Regions from separate parts of the Homo sapiens genome. Here all the other regions are linked to region 1. Evidence: fine-mapped QTL for protein levels in blood plasma. Region 1 holds a variant in brackets. A gene starts in each other region. All regions are shown on their forward strands.

Region 1 (4,117 bases):
TTTTTAGTTTTGATAATTTTTTTTATTTTTCCACTTTTTATTTCATTGATTTCTGTTCTCATTGTTTTGTAACTTCTGTTTACTTTGGGTTAATTTCCTCTTTGCTCTTAAGGTAGAAGTTTGGTCATTGATTTTGCTCCCTTTTTAATGTAAACATTTAAGGTTATAAATTTCTTCTAAGTATTGCTATAGCTACATCTCCCAAACTTTGATATGAAATTCAAATTTGATAGGAAAACTCATTTTCAGGTCAAAATTTACTAATCTCCCTTTTGGTTTTTTCTTTGTATCATGGATTATTTAGAAGTGTGTTGTTTAATATCCAAATATTTGGGGATTTTTTTCAGAGATGTTTCTGTTCGAATTTCATTGTGGTCCAACAACATAGATTTCATTCCTTATATATTTATTGAGACTCATATGGCTCAGAATATGTTTATCTAGGTAAATGTTTCATAATTCACTTCAAAAGAATATGTATTTTGCTATATTTGAGTATAATATTCTATAAATGTCAATTAAGTCAGTTATGTCATTGATTTCTTTTTAACTTTTTTAATGAACTACTGAGGGAGGAGTATTGAAATTTTCAAACATAATTATAGATTTGTCTATTTTACCTTTTAGTTCAGTTGGTTTATGGTTTGGCTATTTTGTTTTTTGGGTTTTTGTTTGTTTGTTTTATTATTTTCCACAGGTGGTTGAGGTACAGGTGGTATTTGGTTACATGAGTAAATTCTTTAGTGGTAATTTGTGATATTTTGGTGCCCCCATCACCCAAGCAGTATACACTGCACCCTATTTGTAGTCTTTTATCCCTCACCCCCTTCCTACCCTTCCCCTCATGTCCCCAAAGTCTTTGTATCATTCTTATGCCTAGGCGTCCTCATAGCTTAGTTCCCACATATCAGTGAAAACATGATGTTTAGTTTTCCATTCCTGAGTTACTTCACTCAGAATAATAGTCTCCAGTCTCATCAAGGTCACAGCAAATGCCACTGATTCATTCCTTTTTTATGGCTGAGTAGTATTCCATTGTATATAGATACCATAGTTTCTTTATTCACTTGTTGATTGATGGGCATTTGGGTTGGTTCCATGATTTTGCAATTGCAATTTGTGCTGCTATAAATGTGCATCTGCAAGTATCTTTTTCGTATAATGATTCCTCTGGGTAGATACCCAGTAGTGGGATTGCTGGATCAACTGGTAGTTCTACTTTCAGTTCCTTTTGAGATGGAGTCTTGCTCTGTCGCCCAGGCTGGAGTGCAGTGGCACAATCTTGGCTCACTGCAGCCTCCATCTCCTGGGTTCAAGCAGTTCTCCTGTCTCAGCCTCCCGAGTAGCTGGGACTACAGGCACACGCCATCACGCCCAGGTAATTTTTTGTATTTTAGTAGATATGGGGTTTCACCATGTTGTCCAGGCTGGTTGTGAACTCCTGAGCTCAGGCAGTCCACCCACCTCGGCCTCCCAAAGTGCTGGGATTACAGGCATAAGCCACCGTACCTGGCCTACTTTTAGTTCTTTAAGGAATCTCCACAGTGTTTTCCTTAGCAGCTATACTAGTTTACATTCCCACCAGCAGCATAGAAGTGTTCCCTGTTAACCGCATTCATGCCAACATCTGTTTTTTGATTTTTTGATGATGGCCATTCTTGCAGGAGTAAGGTAGTATCTCATTGTGGTTTTGATTTGCATTTCCCTGATCATTAGTGATGTTGAGCATTTCTTCATATGTTTGTTGGCCATTTGTATATCTTCTTTTGAGAATTGTCAATTCATGTCCTTAGCCCACTTCTTGATGGGATTGCTTGTTTTTTTTCTTACTGATGGGTTTTTGGTCATGAAATCCTTGCCTAAGCCAATGTCTAGAAGGGTTTTTCCAATGTTATCTTCTAGAATTTTTATAGTTTCAGGTCTTAGGTTTAAGTCCTTAATCCATCTTGAGTTGATTTTTGTGTAAGGTGAGAGATGAGGATCCAGTTTCATTCTCCTACATGCGGCTAGCCAATTATCCCAGCACCATTTGTTTAAAAGGGTGTCCTTTCCCCACTTTATATTTTTGTTTGTTTTGTCAAAGATCAGTTGGCTGTAAGTATTTGGGTTTATTTCTGGGTTCTCTATTCTGTTCCA[T/C]TGGTCTATGTGCTTATTTTTATACCAGTAGCATGCTTTTTTGTTGACTATAGCCTTATAGTATAGTTTGAAATAAGGTAGTGTTATGCTTCCAGATTTGTTCTTTTTGCTTAGTCTTGCTTTGGCTATGCGGGCTCTTTTTTGGTTCCATATGAATTTTAGAATTGTTTTTTCTAATTCTGTGAAGAATGATAGTGATATTATGATGGGGATTCCGTTGAATTTGTAGGTTGCTTTTGGCAGTATGGTCATTTTCACAATATTGATTCTATCCATCCATGAGCATGGGATGTGTTTCCATTTGTTTGTTTCATCTATAATTTCTTTCAGCAGTGTTTTGTAGTTTTCCTTGTAGAGGTCTTTTGCCTCCTCGGTTAGGTATATTCCTAAGTATTTTGTTATTTTTGCAGCTATTGTGAAGGGGTTGAGTTCTTGATTTGACTCTCCGCTTGGTCACTTTTGGTGTATAGAAGGGCTACTGATTTGTGTACATTAATCTTGTATCTGGAAACTTTGCTTAACTCTTTTATCAGCTCTAGGATCTTTCTGGAGGAGTCTTTAGGGTTTTCAAGGTAAATGATCATATTGTCAGCAAACAATGACAATTTGACTTTCTCTTTACTGATTTGGATGTCCTTTATTTATTTTTCTTGTCTGATTGCTCTGGCTAGGACTTTCAGTACTATGTTGAAGAGGAGTGGTGAGAGTGGGCATCTTTGTCATCTTCCAGCTCTCAGAGGGAATGCTTTCAACTTTACCCATCCAGTATTATGTTGGCTGTGGGTTTGTCATAGATGGCTTTTATTACATTGAGCTATGTCCCTTGTGTACCGATTTTGCTGAGAGTTTTAATCATAAAGCAATGCTGGATTTTGTTGAATGCTTTTTCTGCATCTATTGAGTTGATCATGTGATTTTTGTTTTTAATTCTGTTTATGTGGTGTATCACATTTATTGACTTGCATATGTTAAACCATCCCTGCCTCCCTGGTATGAAACTCACTTGATCATGGTGGATTATCTTTTTGATATGTTGTTGCATTTGGTTAGCTAGTATTTTTGTTAAGGATTTTAGCATCTATGTTTATCAGGGATATCGATCTGTAGTTTTCTTTTTTTGTTATGTCCTTTCATGATTTTGGTATTAGGGTGATGCTGGTTTTATAGAATGAATTAGGGAGGCTTCCCTCTTTCTCTAGCTTGTGGAATAGTGTCAAAAGGATTGGTACCAATTCTTCTTTGAATGTCTATTAGAATTCTGCTGTGAATCTGTCTTCTCCTGGACTTTTTTTTGTTGGTAATTTTTAAATTACCATTTCAATTTCACTGTTTATTATTGGCTGTTCAGGGTATCCAATTCTTCCTGACTTAAGCTAGGCAGGTTGTATTTTTCCAGGAATTTATCCATGTCTTCTAGGTTTTCTAGTTTATGTGCATAAAGGTGTTTGTAGTAGCCTTGAATAATCTTTTGTATCTCAGTGGTGTCAGTTATAATATCTCCTGTTTCATTTCTTGATGAGGTTATTTGGATTTTCTCTCTTCTCTTCTTGGTTTATTTTTCTAATGGTCTATTAATTTTATTTATCTTTTCAAAGAACCAGCTTTTTGCTTCATGTATCTTTTGTATTTTTTTGTTGTTGTTAATTTCATTTAGTTCTGCTCTGATCTTGGTTATTTCCTTTCTTCTGCTGGGTTTGGGTTTGGTTTGTTTTTGTTTCTCTAGTTCCTTGAGGTATGACCTTAGAATGTCAGTTTGTGCTCTTTCAGCCTTTTTGATGTAGGCGTTTAGGGCTATGAAGTTTCCTCTTAGCACCACCTTTGCTGTATCCCAGAGTTTTTGATAGACCGTGTCATTATTGTCATTGAGTTTGAAGAATTTTTTAATTTCCATCTTGATTTCATTTTTGACCCAATGATCATTCAGGAGCAGGTAATTTTCCATGTATTTGCATGGTTTTTAAGGTTCCTTTTGGAGTTGATT
Region 2 (4,117 bases), not on the chromosome of region 1:
AAACTGGTATAGCACCAATGCCAATGGGCCCACCACTGGGACTGGGCCAGCTCTCCTGTGAGCCACTTGGCAGCCAGGCAGACCTCATGTCCAGCTGGGGGCTGATGGGCACTCAGAAGTGTCCTTTTGCTTTGGCTCAGCCTCCATCCTGCACTACTCAGAGCAGCAGCCCAGGAGTGCCATCCAAAGACAGCTTCTACTCACCGGCGACAGCCACCAGGGCCAGGGTCAGGACCACGGCCTTCAGGAACATCCTGAGCTGCTTGCTGGGCTGGAGGAGTTTCTTGCCACACTGGATCCTCCCTACAATCAGGGGAGCTGACAGAGAGGTCCTCAGGAGAGCTCACCTGCGCTGCAGTGGGAACTGACTGAAGCTCAGAGCCAGCCAGACATTTAAACTCTCTCCCTATCGCCACCCCCCTGGCTGCCCTCCCCTCCTCCTTCCTCAGTGTGACTCCACGCTGGAAGGTGACACATTCCCAAGAGGCCTCTTGGACTTTTGTGACCCTGAGACTACGTGGAAGCTGACAGCAGATCAGGGCTCAGGCGATAGTTAGAAGTGGTGGCTGTTCCGTGCGTGGGCACCCCCACCCCCACCCCACCAACCTCAGCATGGAAGGGAGGAGGGGAACGGAAAACAGTAGGAGAAACACCTCAGGGAGCCCATGAGCCCGGGACTGATGCCTCGAGGCCCTGCTGGCGGCTCTGGGTTTGTGCCGGGCTCATGGGGGGCAAAGTCCACATCTCCTCTGTCTACCCCAGTGAAGACAGGTCCCCCCAGTCTCCACATCCGCCACTAATGCTGACTCCATCTCAGAGCACCAGACACTGGAGTGGGACCATCCAGGACTGCAGACAGCATAGTGAGCTAAAATCTAGGTCTCTTGTCAAGGTACACCCAAGAGGAGGGGGCCCTGGAGAGCCTTTGGGCAGATGGGTGTGGGAGACAGGGCCTTGTCCTGAAAGGGTTAATTGTAGAGTGCTTCATGTCCCACTCCCATGCTGTGCCTCCTTGGTCTAGTTATTCAAAGCCCTGAGCTTCAGTTTCTCCTCTGAACAATGGGATGGTTCAGTACATTAAAGAAGACATTGCTTGCGAAGTGGGTAGTACGGTCATCTCTCAGTCTCCATGGGAAATTGATTCCAGGACCCTCTGCAGATACCAAAATCCATGGATGTTCAAGTCCTTGATATAAAATGGCATAGTATTTGCATATAACCTAAGCACAGCCTCCCACATACTTTAAATCTCTAGATTACTTATAATACCTAATACGACGGAAATGCTGTGTGAATGGTTGTTATACTGTATTGTTTAGGAGGTAATCACCAAAAAAGTCTGTATATGTTTAGTACAGGTGCAATTTTTTTTTTTTTTGAGATGGAGTCTTACTCTGTCACCCAGGCTGGAGTGCAGTGGCACGATCTTAGCTCACTGCAATCTCTGCCCCCCAGGTTCAAGTGATTCTCCTGCCTCAGCCTCCTGAGTAGCTGGGATTACAGGCACCCACCACCACGCCCAGCTAATTTGTGTATTTACAGCAGAGACGGGGTTTCACCATGTTGCTCAGGCTGGTCTCCAACTCCTGGCCTCAAGCAATCCTCCCATGTGGGCCTCCCAAAGTGCTGGGCTTATAGGCGTGAGCCACTGCGCCCTGCCCAGATGCAATTTTTTTAAAACATTGTTTTTAATGGAGATGGGGTGTCGCTATGTTGCTCAGGCTGGTCTCCAACTCCTGGCCTTAAGTGATCCTCCAATCTCTGCCTCCTAAAATGCTGGGCTTACAGGCATGAGCCACTGCACCCGGCCCACAGATGCAATTTAAAAAAAAAAATATATATATATATATATATATATTTTTTTTTTTTTTTTTTTTTTTGAGATGGAGTCTTGCTCTGTCACCCAGGCTGGAGTGCAGTGGCACGATCTCGGCTCACTGCAAGCTCTGCCTCCCGGGTTCACGCCATTCTCCTGCCTCAGCCTCCCAAGTAGCTGGGACCATAGGCGCCCGCCACCACGCCCGGCTAATTTTTTTTTTTTTTTTTGTATTTTTAGTAGAGATGGGGTTTCGCCGTGTTAGCCAGGATGGTCTCGATCTCCTGACCTCGTGATCCGCCCGCCTCAACCTCCCAAAGTGCTGAGATTACAGGCGTGAGCCACCACGCCCGGCCTAAAAAATTATTTTCAATCCAAGGTTGGTTGAATCCATGGACACAGAAACCAAGGATACAGAGGGCTGCCTATAGAGCTCCTGGCACAGAGTAAGCTCTGAAAAATAGTTGCTGTTATTATAATAATCATACTGTATAATAATCATACTGTGTTCCTGATTTGGAGCAAAGCAGGGAGGGTAGCAGAGTGCTCCCTCCTCTAGTGAGAGTGGCAGAGTGAGACTCAGCCCTCTGAGGGGCGCCAGGTGGGCCAGAGGCAGGGTGATGGGTGGGACCAGCCTGAGGCCTGACTCCTGCCCTTCTTGCCCCCCAGCCACACTCCCTGGGCAGGAGCAGCTGGCTTGAGCAGAATCTTGGGACCTGAGGCTCTCAGGGGACCTCCCATTGGGGGATGGAGGGCAATGGTGGTGGTGCCCAGGAGGTCTTCTACTTAGATGTCTATTGGATCTCTAAATGAGGCTGCATGCATAATCACACACAAACATCCACTGAGAAGGTGACACACCACGTCAGCATGGGTCCCTCTGCCGGACCACACCACTCCTAGTGACTATGAGGTGACATCCAGGCACGTTGCACTATTGGCTCCTGTCGGTGAGTGCAGTGCCTGACAACAGTGAGCTACATTTATTTGTAAAAATGAACGCCATCAGAGTAGACCACAATTGTACTAACTCTAATTTGCTTTGTGTTCATTTTTTCAGTTTCCAGAAGTGGCTTAATGTTTCCTAGGGTCAAAGGCAGTCAAATGACCTCCTGACTCTGGCACCCCTTCTGCTGGGTCCCCACTGCCCTGTAGTGGTCCCCACGCTACCATGCTGCCTCCTTTTTGATGCAGCCTGTGCCATCTCTCCGTGATTGTTGGGGTCAGATGCTGGAGTCCACTCCCTGGCTTGGCATCCAGGCTCCAACACGTACTGCCTGTGTGTCCTTGGGCAAGTCTCATAACCTCTCTGAGCCTCAGTTACCTTGGTGAGACATAACCATTGTACCTGCCTCCTAGGCTGTGAGGATTCACTGAGATGATCTTATAGTGCTTGCAACAATGTCTGGCACATAGGAAAAGTGATCACTAAATGTTAGCCACGTCTTACTCCTGCAAGGCTCACCTCCCTGGAACCCATCGGTCCCAACCCTGCTCCTGAATCAGGCACAGTCCAGCTTGCAGCGGGAGCAAAGGTCAGTACTCAGTGCCCCTGTCCCTTCCCCAGGCCAGAGGGGAGGAGGAGACTGAGTCACGAATGACACCTCAGCCGCAGTTTGACCTCCAGGACTTACAGTCCTAGCAGCCGGTGCCACTAGCATGTGAGAGGTCCAGAGGCGCTTCTGTCTCACCCGCCCGCCTGGGTGCACCCATGCTGGGAGCGCCTGCACCATTTGAGCATGTCCGAGAGCATCCACCAGAGTGTGTGTGGATTCACAGAAGTGTGCAAATCACTAAGAACCAAGGGACTGGCACAGCCCATGCGTGCACCCACGCTCGCGAGGGGACCTGCTGCCTTTCAACGTGGCGGGGACGTGACCTGTTAATGAATGTATTTACTTCCCAAAGTCTGAGGGTACGTTTTGCATCAATCTGTAGATGGATTTGTTTTGGGGAGCAGGGAGAGAATGAGAGCCCCCTGTGCTCAGTCTTAGAGGGTGCAAGTAGCTGATGGGAAGAGCAGACTGCCTTCCAGCCAGGCCTGGTCCTGTGAGTCAGGGACGTCCATCTTAGTGGGCATGAAAGGCCTGTGTGATCTCGAGGGAGACATCGCCTCTCCAAGCCTCTCCTTATCTGTGCAACAGGCAGACTTAATGATTGGTGAGGCAATGAGGCTGATAGCTCAGCATTAGCTACAGCCACCCCTCCTGGCCAACCACACAGGGATCAAACCAGGGGTCAGTCCAGAGGTCAGAGTCAGGAGCAGACAACTCAGATCCAGCCAGGGACAGGCAGGTCACA
Region 3 (4,117 bases), not on the chromosome of region 1:
AAATTTTTCCTTAGGATTCTGCCCACGCACATGATTTCAAAGACCATCCTTATACAGATGACACGTTTTTAGAAATAGTTTCTCTCCAAATCTATCTCTTCAAACATCTGTAATTCATCATACTTAAGCTGAGCATTTCTTCTTCTTCCTCCCGTCACCATAGCACACAAATAACTAAATGTAGGAACTGGTGGCAGCTAAGAATTTAGTACCAAAAAGAATCCTTTGATAATATAGCTTATAACTCTTCCTGGTTCTAGTATAAAAGTTGGAGCTCATAAAATTGAGTTTACTATAAGGAAGTATACCTATAATTGTCCACTGAGGAAGTGGGGAAAGAAAAGGAAGGAGAATGAAGAAAAGGAATCATTTCTGGCAAGCAGTAACAAAGAATCATGTGCTCTGGTGTTGTCCTTACTTTCTCTTTGACCAGTGACATTTCTGCCTTTAATTTTCTATGACCCGTATCAAGCTAGACAGGCACAAAATATTGATCCTTATCCACATGGCATTCCACTTAAACAGTTATAATGGGATGAAACTCTAAAACCTTATGGATTGCAAAAATATTTATTTAAAAGGAATTAAAGTTGGCACAATATATCTTGTTCAAAGATTAATATTAGCTCCAATTTATTCTACTTGCATTCTTTAAAATCAGCTTAATTTTCATGGCTCAATGTCAGTCAAAAAACACTACAGTGAAGAATTATCAGTAAACTGCTAATAGGTATGGGATTCTTTTGAGGAGTGATGGAAATGTTCTGGAATTAGATGCATGCAAACCATGGTTTTCACAACCTAATGAATATACTAAAACCCACTTAACTGTATATTTTAAAATGACAAATTTTATGTGAAATACATGTCAATTAAAAAAATTAGCAGTGGTTACTAACAGCCTTCAAAGTTAAAAATGTTTTGTCTCTAACACTCTCTCTGAGGATATGGAGAAATACGACATTCATCCTTAATTAGGAACGGAGAGCTTTTCAAGCCTGCACTTAAAACAGAGAGCACTAAAAACTCTACGACCTAGACGGTTTTTTCCTTGGCTTTCCCCTTTTCCTGACAACCATGCTTTTTTTTTTTTTCCCCATGTCTTCTAGTTTCACTCAATATCGTTGGCTAAACAAGAATCACATTTTAAAATATACAACGCATCCTAAATTGACGGAGGGCTTTTCTCTTTTATCAGTCTAATTCGTCCTAAGCTAGAACTACCTCATGGGTGTGAGAACTGCTGGCTTTAAGCTTGCTTCCTTCAGATGCTCCTGTACCAAGTCAGCGGGATTTTGTTCTAATATGAAAACACAGCTGAATTAGCTTTTCAAAAGGGAATGGATACAGAGCTCCAATCCTGCTCATTTTAGGGCAAGTATTACAAGCTAAATTCAGGCTGAAAAACCAAGCAAACGAACAAGAAGTGGATCAATTCTCAGAGAACCTGCCATAATCTGGCCCTTGCCCACTTCTCTACCTCATGTCTCAAGACGTCCCCTCGCCTCCAGGTACTTTGCTTTATCATTTGTCCCGTTTTTCCTGTCACTCAGAGACAGCCTTTGCACGTGCTTTTCCCTCTGGCCAGGCCATTCTCTCTCTCTTAGCCTCGCTGATTCCCACTCATCTTTCACGTCTTCCCGGACCAAGCCAAAATATCCGAGGGAGTTTTCTAACCATCGGCGGTGTCCTCAGGGGCACATTAATAGACGTTGAGAAACTGAGGGACGGCGGAAAATCACCCCTTAGCAGAGGAGGTTCTAGGGCACCTTAGAGGTGATTTCATTCGAGCTTTCTTGGAGACCTTAGGAAAGCCAGCGGCGGGACTGCGGGACCTACGCGCTCGGCGCTAAGGGAGGGTCCAGGCACCAGGCGGGCGTTTGGGCGCACGGGCACGCGGAGACTTGGTGGGCCAGGAGAGGGATGCTGGGTCGCAGGACCGCGGCTCGTTCGTTCCTCTCAGGCTTGCGCTTGCCGCTTGCCGGGCCGGTCAGAGGGAGCAGCCCCGGCGAGCTACGCCCTCCCTGCCCGGACCCCACGCTCCACCCCCCGCCCCGCCGCCTCCCGCACACTCACCATCCGCCCGCACCGAAAGGCGCGGCAGACCGAGCAGGAGCAGCGCCGCCGCCCAGAGCCCGGGGAGGCGTCTGTGCCAACGGGCAGGCGGGCTGGGTCCCTCGGCAGTCATGGTCCGGGAGTGCGCGGGCCAGCGGACTCGGGTGAGGGCTCTGGCTGCGTTTGGGGTTGCCCAGGCCACTGCCCAGCGTGCGCCACTCGGCTCTGCGCTCTGCGCTCGGCTCACGAATCGCAGGCTTCGCGCCGGGCGCGCCGAGAGGGAGGAGCGCGGAGAGCCGGGGGAGGCTCGGGACGCAGAGCCGGAGCGCCTGGGCCGCCGAACTCCCGGGGGTCTTCTCTGTGGCGCCGAGGAGGCGGCTGTAACCCGGCTCCGCCTTCGCGCTGGGCACCTGGAAACCTCGGTGCCAAAAGGGGCTGCGCTGGGCCGCGCGCTCTGCGGGTACAGCGGGGCGGAGGGCGAGGGCGCAGGGAGGCGGGGAGAGTAGCTAGCCGGCCGCAAGGAGCCCCCGCCCGTCTGGGGGACCCTTGGCGAGAGGGTGACGCAGTCTGACAGGCGGAGCCCCTCCGGCAGGGCCGTTAGACAACGAGTGTCTAACTCTGTCCTCGGCCTCTACTTTTCAACTGGCCTCCTCCCCCTCCCCACCAACACTCTTTTTTTTTTTTTTTTTTAATGAAGAGAGGAAAATCTAAGTTACCTACCACCCTCACTCTAAGGTGTGAAACGCATGGAATAGCGAAATTCCTCTTTCCTAAAAGCGAAGTTTGAGAGTCACTGAGGAAAGGATATCTTCAGGAACGCTTCCTTCACCACTTTTCCTGGTACGCTAGTATTTCTCAAGGAGCAGTAAGAGGGCTAGTGAGATTGTCACCATTATCACCCACCTCCCAAATCAGGGCTTTTTGACCTCGAAAGGGTCTGAGATTCGGACTCTGTCGGTCTGGTCTGGGAATCTACACTCTAAGTTAAAGTGTCCCAATGGATTCTGCTGCAGGGGTCCCTGTTTGACTTGATTCCTTCTTCCTGCTCGCCCCTAGCCTGTCTCCCTACCACCAGCCCTGTTCAGTGAAAGAAGAACTTGCTTTCTTCATAGGTAGAGTAATAAAGATCAGTATTGTTATAACTGAGGCATGCGCGGTGCTCTACAATTTGCAAATCCCTTTTATATTGATGTATGGGTCAACAAACATCTATTGAGTGCCCATACATGCCTGTCCCTGTGCTAGACCCTGAATGTGGCTGCAATCGGTCCTAAAAATGTTCACACTTAAATAAAATATACTTACAATTGAAAAAGTGATTGGTGCTAAAGGGGCAGATGATTATCCTCATTTAATGAACCAGGACACAGACATTGAAATAATTTACTTTCTTTTCACAGTAAGAACTTGGATTTGAATCCACATCTGATTTACTACAGGTGTCATTTTTCAGCTTGCATTAATTGTTGAAATGTACTGAAAAGATTTCTTCTCTCCTTATTACTTCCCATCAACTACAAGGGCTACTATTAATGAGTAATTATTTTGGATAATTAAACTTTGCTTTCAAAATACAAATACTGGCCGGACACGGTTGCCCAGGCCTGTAATCCAAGCACTTTGGGAGGCGGAGGCCGACCAATCACCTGAGATCAGGAGTTGGAGACCAGCCTGGCCAACATGGTGAAATTTCCATCTTTACAAAAATACAAAAATTAGCCGGGCGTGGTAGCTGTTAATGCAGTGAGGTGTTAAATGCAGTGAGGCCTGACAAGTATAAATGAATTTACTTAGCTCCTTCCCTTTTTTTTTTTTTTTTTTTTTTTTTTGAGATAGAGTCTCGCTCTGTTGCCAGGCTGGAGTACCGTGGAGCGATCTTGACTCACTGTAACCTCAGCCTCCCAGGTTCAAGCGATTCTCCTGCCTCAGCCTCCCGAGTAGTTGGGACTACAGGCGTGCACCACCACGCCCAGCTAATTTTTGTATTTTTAGTAGAGACGGGGTTTCACCATGTTGGCCAGATGGTCTCGATCTCTTAACCTCGTGATCCGCCGGCCTCGGC
Region 4 (4,117 bases), not on the chromosome of region 1:
CTCCTAGTCTCCTTTGTGCTACTTATAAACAAAAGCCAAAACCATAGCACTCACTACATTCTAACATACTTGCATAATTTACGTACTTATTTTAGTTATTTGACTGCCTTCCCTCACAAGAATATAAACTTCACAAAGGCAAGATATTTATCCATTTCGTTCACTGGTATATCTCTAGTACCTAAAACAGTTCCTAGCACATTTTAAGGACTCAAATATTTGTTCAATGAATGAATGAAAGAAATTTGGTTAAAAACTGGAACAAAACAGGAATGGAGGCCAGCGACAGGAGAACTTCTCTACCTCATTTCCTGTAGGCCTACATGCTTGGAACTTAAAAGCAGGTTGTTGTGAGCCTAAGGCCTGAAGACATGCAAACTTTCTTTTTTCTTTCTAACCAAACTCCTGCTTTTTAAAAAATCATATTATTTCTGGGAGTGAGTCTGTGCTGTGTATTTAATCTTGGATTGCCAAGCCAGTGAGGTGGGAAAAGGTTGGAACATATCTCTATTCTAAAGAGTAGAGTTGGATTTTGTAAATATAGGTGTATTTCATGATAATTTAAAATGTTTTCTTGAAGTAATATATGTGTGTACAAAAAAAACACATATCATAAGTATATAGCTCACTGAATTTTCACAAACTGAATTTGTCAATGTAATTGGCATCCATAGCAAAAAGCAGAACCCAGCTAACATCTCAGATGCTCCTCTGTGCCCTTTCCAGTTACTAGCTACTACCCAGGGTGACCACTATTCTGACTTCTCATGCCTTGGAAGTGTTTTGCCTAATTTTGTTCTTGATATAAATTAAATCATACAGTATAAACATGCTTGTATCTCTTTTTTTACTCAAAATTTTGTTTGTGAGATTTATCCACATTGTTATATATGGTCAGAGTTTGTTCGTTTTCATTGCTATATAAAATTTCACTTACAGTCTAACCATTCTACTGTTGATGGATATTTGGTTTCCAGTTTGGGGGTTATTATGAATAGTGCTACTATCAACATTCTATTAATGTATTTTGGTGTATGTATGCGTGAATTTCTTTGGACATTTTTGTGTTTTTTAAATCCACAGTCAGTGAACCCTAAGTGTTCCTCAGCATTGCAGTCAGTATATTTACCATGTATGCGTTACTCAAATGACAGCTGTAGTTGCAGGCATTACCAAATCCTTCCCTCCTTAATGTTATCACTGGACTTTGTCTATACTTGGGATTCTTAACATGTTGTATTTTGGTTAAGTATGCGTATTCATGTTTTTTATTAGATTTTGAGTGCTTTTTAGTACTTTGTTTTACTTGCTTATGTATCCCGACTCCTGACGAGGTACCTGAAATATAGTAAGCTAGTTGAGCGAATGGTGATAGCTGTCACCATTGCCAGTGATTAACAGAGCAAGTTTCCCTAGTTATGTGAATCACTTAGCCTAGAGTAAAATCCATGCTTTAGTTTGATATCTCAGTGTCAAAGGATTAGGAATGGGAAGTCATTTCTCTCTGAGAGAAGCCCAGAACTGTGGGCTCAGAACTGAATGTGCTGTGTGGCTAAAGGGAATTGCTATGGCTTTACAAGCCTCTTGGAGATTTAAAGTGTTAACAGCAGTGATTCCAAGGCATAGTGTGGGGGGGCCAGATATAAATAGCAGAACACAAGTAGCGTAGTGTGCCACTGCCAAGCTACTGCTGGGGGTGTTTATAAAAAGAAAAGCATTCCTGTCTCAGCTCTCACTGTCAACAACATCCCATCCTGAAGACTTGCTTACCACAACTGAGAGTGGGGAGTCAGTTTGAGGCCTAGCATCACTTAAACTTCCTCCAAAGGCACAAAAGCCAGGTAAACCTTTTGACTTATTTACACTCAGACTAAAGAAATGAACAATTTTTAGGAAAATCCTGATCAAAGCTTGCTTAAAACATATTGCCTTGTGACAGATATCTATCATCTTATATTCAAATCTTTTTTGGAAAGAGAAGTTTAACACAAAGTAGCATGTTGGTACTATATTTTAGTATTTTTAGTAAAAACAAAACAAAACTGCTTCTGAAGAAATATGGGAAACTGAGGCCAAAATGATCTATAAAAGGGAAGACTTCTCCCTTCCCCTGTGCTGTTCATTCTCATTTTTAGAATCCAGAATATGGTGATTGGTAGGGTAAAATAGAAGCTTCATTTGAGTTACATTATCATAAATACTGGGATGAATATTAGGCATTCGGCCAATAGTTGTATAATCTTAGAATTGCTGCCTACCCAGTTCCTTCTTATTCTTGTTCCCGCCTTCAGAAAGTTATGTAAGACACTTATTTTACCCTCGGGCTTCTCTTGATTGTATTTGGGGGAAGGGGGCCATCTCTGACAATCCACTGCTTTGTACCACTACTGACCTCATCATCTCCTCTGTCCCACTCAAAAGGGCATGACAATGTGCAAAGAGGATAGAAGAATGGATAATGTGCATGGACATATTCCTGGGGAATTCTTAGAAACTGGGAGCTAGGGGACCAATTTGAGACTGCTGTTTTTTAGTCTGATTGTGTTATTTCCTGTGCACGCTGAGGGGAGATTTAGAGATGGGAAGAAAATATGACTCCCAGTGACTGTGGTGGGAGAGATGACATGTCTGGAGGAGTATGGAAATGCACAGATTTAATCTTGAGCAAATCACTGAAATTCTAAGGTGTTTTTGTTTCCTCGTCTGTAGAATGAGAGCATTAGACCACTAGATAAAGCCTAATGGCTCTTGTAGCCCGTTAGGAATTTATTGATAATCACTTCCTGACCATCATGCTATCCACTCACATTCTAAATGAAAAAATACGCAGTGTCATCCTATTCTACTTCCCTACACCTCTTTTTTGAGTCTACTGAATTGAAATTTCTTTATTTTAATTTAGAAGAGAAAAATGAAGACGGGACATTTTGAAATAGTCACCATGCTGCTGGCAACCATGATTCTAGTGGACATTTTCCAGGTAATGTTGGGAATGGGAAGCATGTGGTCATTGGAATGGAAATTCGTTTTTTTTTTTTTTTGAGACGGAGTCTCTCTCTGTCGCCCAGACTGCTGGAGTGCAGTGGCTCGATTTCGGCTCACTGCAAGCTCCGCCTCCCAGGTTCATGCCATTTTCCTGCCTCAGCCTCCCCAGTAGCTAGGACTACAGGCGCCTGCCACCACGCCTGGCTAATTTTTTGTATTTTTGGTAGAGACGGGTTTTCACCATGTTAGCCAGGATGGTCTCGATCTCCTGACCTCATGATCCGCCCACCTCGACCTCCCAAAGTGCTGGGATTACAGGCGTGAGCCACCGCGCTTGGCCTGGAATGGAAATTCTTGATATAACATTACCTGAGGCATCTGTGTGGCTTGATGGTGGAAATGAAAGTAGGTAGGATAGGTAAATTAATTATAAGTAGCTCTTTTCATTTTAAATATGTGACAGATTAACTGTAAAAAGTTGAAAAAATTAAAATTAAGCAAAAAGAGGAAAGTAAAGATTATTCATAATTCCTCCACTCAGAGGGAATGATTCCCAACCTGTTGGTGTATACAGGCTTCTTGGCTTTTTTCTATGTGTATACTGTTTTTAATTTACAAAAATGGGTTCACACTGTACATAGAATTTTTTCTTTGCATTTTAAGTTAATACTATGCTGCATGTCACGCATGTCATCAGATATTCTGAATATATGTTTTTCTCCAAATAAGATAATGCTGCATTGTTTGATTACATGTTTTTTAATTAATGACCATTTTCCCACATTTTTTTTCTGGCAGAACTTTTATGATTTTATTTGCAATTGACTCTTTAAGCATCCTGTAACATATTTTTATGTAAAATATAATATTTCACTTGATTTTTTTTCCCCACGTTGTTAGCTGCCACATTACTTGTGGGTATTTGTGCACCATTTTAGATGCCTTTTTAAAAATATCTTAAATTCTTAAACTGTTATCCTTTTTTGAATTTAATATTCTAATCCATTTTCTATAGAATCATTGTGTATCCTGTTTCCTGTGTCGCAGTATGTTTTTTATTGAAATATAATTTACATACCATAAAAATTCACCATTTTTAGCTGTATACTTCAGTGGTTTCAGTATATTCATT
Region 5 (4,117 bases), not on the chromosome of region 1:
CCTGCCACAGAGGTGAGAAGCTTCAAGGACATCAGGAGGTCCTGTTCCTTGAGGAAAGCCAGGCTGGAGGCTCTTGGAGCCCTCTTTACCCCTGACCCTGGGCATCTGTGGATGCTTCTGAGGGCTTCAGAGGACACAGGGCCAAGGGAAGAGGCAGGGAAACAGTCCGACAAGAGGCTGCACAGCACTGATTGGAAACTCAGATGGTTCTGGGGCCGGGCAGGAAACTCAAGTGAGTGGACAGCTTGGCAGGAGGCAGCAGGGAGTGGTGGGGACTGGGGTGACCCATGAGCCCACATTTTGGCAGAGGGAGCAACCGCCACTCAGCCCCAGCTGAGAGTTCCTGTTCAATGCAAGCTGGGAAGCCCCATTTTAATATGAAACCACCTGATTTTTCAATGTTAGCAGTGCCTTCAAAGTTGTAAAAACTCCCATAAAGCCTGCACTAAATGCACCCAAAGGCCAGCCCCAACCCAGGAACAGAGGTCCGCAAGCCATGCCCTAATCCATGTAGACCGAGAAACGTATGGGTTGTGGAGCCCTGCCAGCCCTGGAAAGGGGCCCTGTGGGGAGAGGGCCCTGTGGACGGGAGGTCCAGAAGGTGACTGTCCCAGCCAGGCCCTGCTTAGCCCTTGACGGCTAGACACAGAGGCCATCCTGCCTTCTGGAGATAACTGAGTCCTCCAGAGACTAGGAAACCCTCCAGCTGGTGTGGCCCAGCCTCCCAGGGATAAGCCTTCAGGCCCCCCAAAGACTAGAGCTAGCCCAGCCAAGGGCCTTGGCTACAGGCCGGGCTGGAGGGGGTGTGGGTGTCCCAAGGCTCTCCGGAAGTCAGGAGCTGAGCTGGGCCCCCAAAGGCTCTGAGGCATGACTGACCACAAACGCGGAGGGGGAGGAGGGCAGAGTGTTTTCCTGGAATCCTCCAAGGCAGGGGATTTTTCTGGACTAGTCCGGCCCCTGGCACCCGCCCCTCCTGCCCAATCAAGGGCCACTGTCAACTGCAGCCCAGGCCCCACCCACCGACGGTGACCACCCCTATGCCTCCACAGCTCAGGCTTGAAGCTGCCAGTAACTGTGGGGCCGTGGGCAGACCACCACTGCCCTCCCTGACACAGCCCCTTCATCTCATAATATGGTGGGGAAGAGAGTCCAGGGCTGCTCACAACTCTTAAGGCTGTCGTGGCTAAGAGGACCCTGAGCTCAGATTTGGCATTGGAGTTTATACTTAGGAGGCTCTTGAAAGGGCTTTGTGTGGGCTGCCAGGAGTTTTTTGAAATTGGGATTAGCTACCAACAATAACACATTGAGAGATTTCACCTAAAAATCTGGATTTCCAGTTTCTCTTCAAAAATCCAAAGCTCTAGCTGGCCCGGGCTGGTCATGAGGACTCAGCCCTTACCAGCCCCACTCCCGCCATCCTGCCTCTCCAGGGCCGCAGAGGCCCTGGGGTGGACTTCTGGCATTTGTCACCTGCCTGGTGCCTCATAGGCATCTGGGCTGTGACGCTTAGGATTCCTAAATAGTCTCTCGCTTTTTACACAAAAAGCAGAAACCTGCCCAGTGTCATCCGGCAAACCCACGACGGGCAAGGTCTCCCCGCGCAGGTCAGGTGGCCGCAGGGTGAGGGCCAGGGCAACCCGGCCCACGAGCCCCTCGGTGGGGAAGGGGCGTGTCTCCACGCGGCTCCGCCCCGGCCAATGGGGAGAGGCCCCGCCCCTGCCGCGGCGGGCCCGCCCCCCGGGACTCTTAAGGCGCGACCTGCCTCCAGCGAGCCGACTCCGGAGCCCGAGCCCGGGGCGGGTGGACGCGGACTCGAACGCAGTTGCTTCGGGACCCAGGACCCCCTCGGGCCCGACCCGCCAGGAAAGACTGAGGCCGCGGCCTGCCCCGCCCGGCTCCCTGCGCCGCCGCCGCCTCCCGGTGAGTTTCTGTGGGGCTGGGGGGCTGCGGGCGGGGAAGGGGGCGCCACGGCCAGGCTGTGCACACGCGCGGGGACCGCCGCCGCGCGCACACACGCACTCTCGGGCGGGACCGCGGCCCCAGCCCCACACGGTCACCTGGGCCGCCCGGCGGGCAGGCCCTGTACGCTCCCTCCCCCGCCGTCCTGGGGCGCCGACAGCCCCGCGGCCGGCCAGGGTGCGCGCCTGAGTGTGCGGTGAGCCCGCGAGGCTGCAAGCAGACAAAATAAACACCCCGTCCCATGCTTCCTCCTCCCACGGCTGGGCCTCCGGCATGACCAGTTTTATGAATCAAACCCCTTTGAGGGGGATAGCCAAGCCACAGGCTTGGGTCACTTTTCCCTCCTGGGGTCCGGCAGTAGGTGCTGCTGTGCAGAAGGGCTGCCCGGGGTCCTCTGGACCCTTGTCACTCAAAGCACAGCTGGGGGCTACAGATATGCAGCCCTAGGGAGGGGCGGGGAGTGGCTGGTGGGCGTCCGATGCCCATCCCTCCAGGTGGGGGATGGACCTGTACTGGCCAGGGCCCTTAGAGCTTCGGGTATCAGGCAGGGTGCCGGGTCTCTGCCTCTGCCAGGGAAGGGGCTTTGCTTGGGCTGCAAACCCAGTGGCCTGGAGCCAGCCTAGTCCTTTGTGTCCCTGGGCTGGCAGTGCTGGGGCCTGAGGACTGCTGAGGTCCCCTGTGGTCACTGGCAGGCCAGCCGATTGGTGCCAACCATTCTGCCTCTCCCCCATTCGTTAACGATTGCCACACCAGGGTCACTGACCGCCTCCCCTGCTGTGGCCCAGGGGTGGAGTGTGCAGGGTGGAAGGAAGAGGTCCTGGGGGTCTAGGTGTCCCCATGCCTGCCTTTTGCACCAAGGACAGGTGAGGCTCTGGAGAGAGGCAGCGGGACCTAGAGCCCCCTTCCCCAGGCTGAGAGCCTCCAGGGCTGGGGATTGGATAAAATCTCCAAGGTCCCTTCACACTAGACTGTACTTTGGGTGTTGAGGGCATAGAGGGGTGGCCGGGCTGGGACCTTCCAAGCAGGGTCCATTAGGGCCAGTCCAGGGGGCAGCAAAGTCCAGGATGGGCCCAGCTATTGACAAAAACCCAACAGAGCTGGGGCAGGCGGGTGGGGGATGGGGAGCAGTCCCCTGAGTTTACTCTCTTCTCCCAGGGGAGTTGGCCTGGAGCTTCTGTAAACAGAGTGTCAGAGGCAGGAAGAGGCTCTGGTGATGAGCAGCCCAGCTGGATCCCCTCCAGACCATTATCTAGCCTCCCCTGGGCCTGGGGAGGGAGGATGCGCACACACATGCCAGCCTGGGGGCCGGGCACTGCCTGTCCCCACCCCGCCCCTGTCTCCTGCACGTTGGAACAGCTGTCCTGCTACCTGTGGGTCCGGAGGGTCAGATGGGGATGGGGCTGGGGGCTGGGGTCCCAGGGCATTTGTCCAGATGGCACCTCTCTCTCCATATTCTGGGAATGGGAGAATGGGATTCAGCATAAGGAGCCTCTCAGACACTGCCCAGACCTGTGCTTACCCGAGGAAGGCCCCTCTGGCACGCAGCCCAGGGGCCAGGGAGATGGCAAGGGAGATGCCCCGGGCAGGAGATGGGTCCGCGGCTCCTAGCTCCCATTACTGTCACCCCCACTGACAGCCCCGGGGGAGCTGGGACAAGTCCCAAGTACAGAAAATTAAGTCCTTGCCTGGGCTTATAAGTGGGTCCCAACACAACACTGGGCAGCCTCTGGGAACAAGAAAGCAGGGCCCTGCTGAGCCCAGGAGGGAGCTCCCACCTCAGCAGGCCAGACAGCCAGTCCTGCCAGTGAGCAGAGGTGTGTAGAGGGGAGGCTGCCCACAGGGATGGCTATCCCTGACCACTGGCCAGCCCTGAGCTCATGGGAGGGCAGCAAGGCCACCTAACTCTGTTAGTGACCTCTCCTGGACCCCCCATCAGCTGCCCTTAGAGTCCCCTCCCTGGGCTGGGGAGCCCAAGGCTCTGTGCTGCCAAGAAAACCAGCTCCCCTCACTGCTGTGGAATTTGCGTGAGTTCTTGGAGAAGGGGGAGGGTGCACGTGTGTGTGTGTGTGTGTGTCTGCAGGAGCACTGCCCAGTGGGCGTGTGTCTGGCGTGGGCGTGTCTGTGTGCGCGTGACTGGAGCAGGGCTGTGTATTTGGGG

Which allele goes with the higher level. Positions count from the first base shown, and alleles are read on the strand shown. Strength reflects both the effect of a copy and how common the allele is.
For the plasma level of the protein whose gene starts at base 366 in region 2, C is the high allele of the variant in region 1 and T is the other (weak association).
For the plasma level of the protein whose gene starts at base 2,201 in region 3, T is the low allele of the variant in region 1 and C is the other (weak association).
As copies of T replace C in region 1, the plasma level of the protein whose gene starts at base 1,731 in region 4 goes down (weak association).
For the plasma level of the protein whose gene starts at base 1,775 in region 5, allele T in region 1 goes with a lower level than allele C (weak association).

The links. A credible set is the group of variants that fine-mapping cannot tell apart. PIP is the posterior inclusion probability: the model's chance that the variant is causal. The UK Biobank Pharma Proteomics Project read protein levels with antibody pairs (Olink). The fine-mapping took linkage between variants from a reference panel, not from the people measured, so its PIPs are less certain.
Region 2: APOA4 starts here. The variant in region 1 is the best candidate, but not a certain one, in a credible set for the plasma level of the APOA4 protein (UK Biobank, PIP 0.90).
Region 3: it holds the start of SUSD5, and the variant in region 1 is the best candidate, but not a certain one, in a credible set for the plasma level of the SUSD5 protein (UK Biobank, PIP 0.58).
Region 4: it holds the start of ART3, and the variant in region 1 is the best candidate, but not a certain one, in a credible set for the plasma level of the ART3 protein (UK Biobank, PIP 0.60).
Region 5: it holds the start of VASN, and the variant in region 1 is the best candidate, but not a certain one, in a credible set for the plasma level of the VASN protein (UK Biobank, PIP 0.70).

What each region holds. Positions count from the first base shown.
Region 1 is chr1:179,600,591-179,604,707 of GRCh38, forward strand. All of the region lies in intron 4 of TDRD5 (tudor domain containing 5), which reads left to right. Among named protein-coding and RNA genes, the nearest start is that of TDRD5, 11 kb to the left of the region's middle. The variant T/C (reference allele first, on the strand shown) is at 2,137.
Region 2 is chr11:116,822,939-116,827,055 of GRCh38, forward strand. It overlaps APOA4 (apolipoprotein A4), which reads right to left and starts at 366. Exons shown (of 3, transcript NM_000482.4): 1 at 205-366. The coding sequence starts at 253. RefSeq lists enhancers at 2,354-2,720, 2,575-2,869.
Region 3 is chr3:33,216,610-33,220,726 of GRCh38, forward strand. It overlaps SUSD5 (sushi domain containing 5), which reads right to left and starts at 2,201. Exons shown (of 5, transcript NM_015551.2): 1 at 2,077-2,201. The coding sequence starts at 2,188.
Region 4 is chr4:76,072,979-76,077,095 of GRCh38, forward strand. ART3 (ADP-ribosyltransferase 3 (inactive)) reads left to right here and starts at 1,731. Exons shown (of 12, transcript NM_001130016.3): 1 at 1,731-1,841; 2 at 2,903-2,980. The coding sequence starts at 2,912.
Region 5 is chr16:4,370,074-4,374,190 of GRCh38, forward strand. VASN (vasorin) reads left to right here and starts at 1,775. Exons shown (of 2, transcript NM_138440.3): 1 at 1,775-1,920. All of the region lies in intron 9 of CORO7-PAM16 (CORO7-PAM16 readthrough), which reads right to left. The region is part of intron 9 of CORO7 (coronin 7); the gene reads right to left. RefSeq lists an enhancer at 1,157-1,982.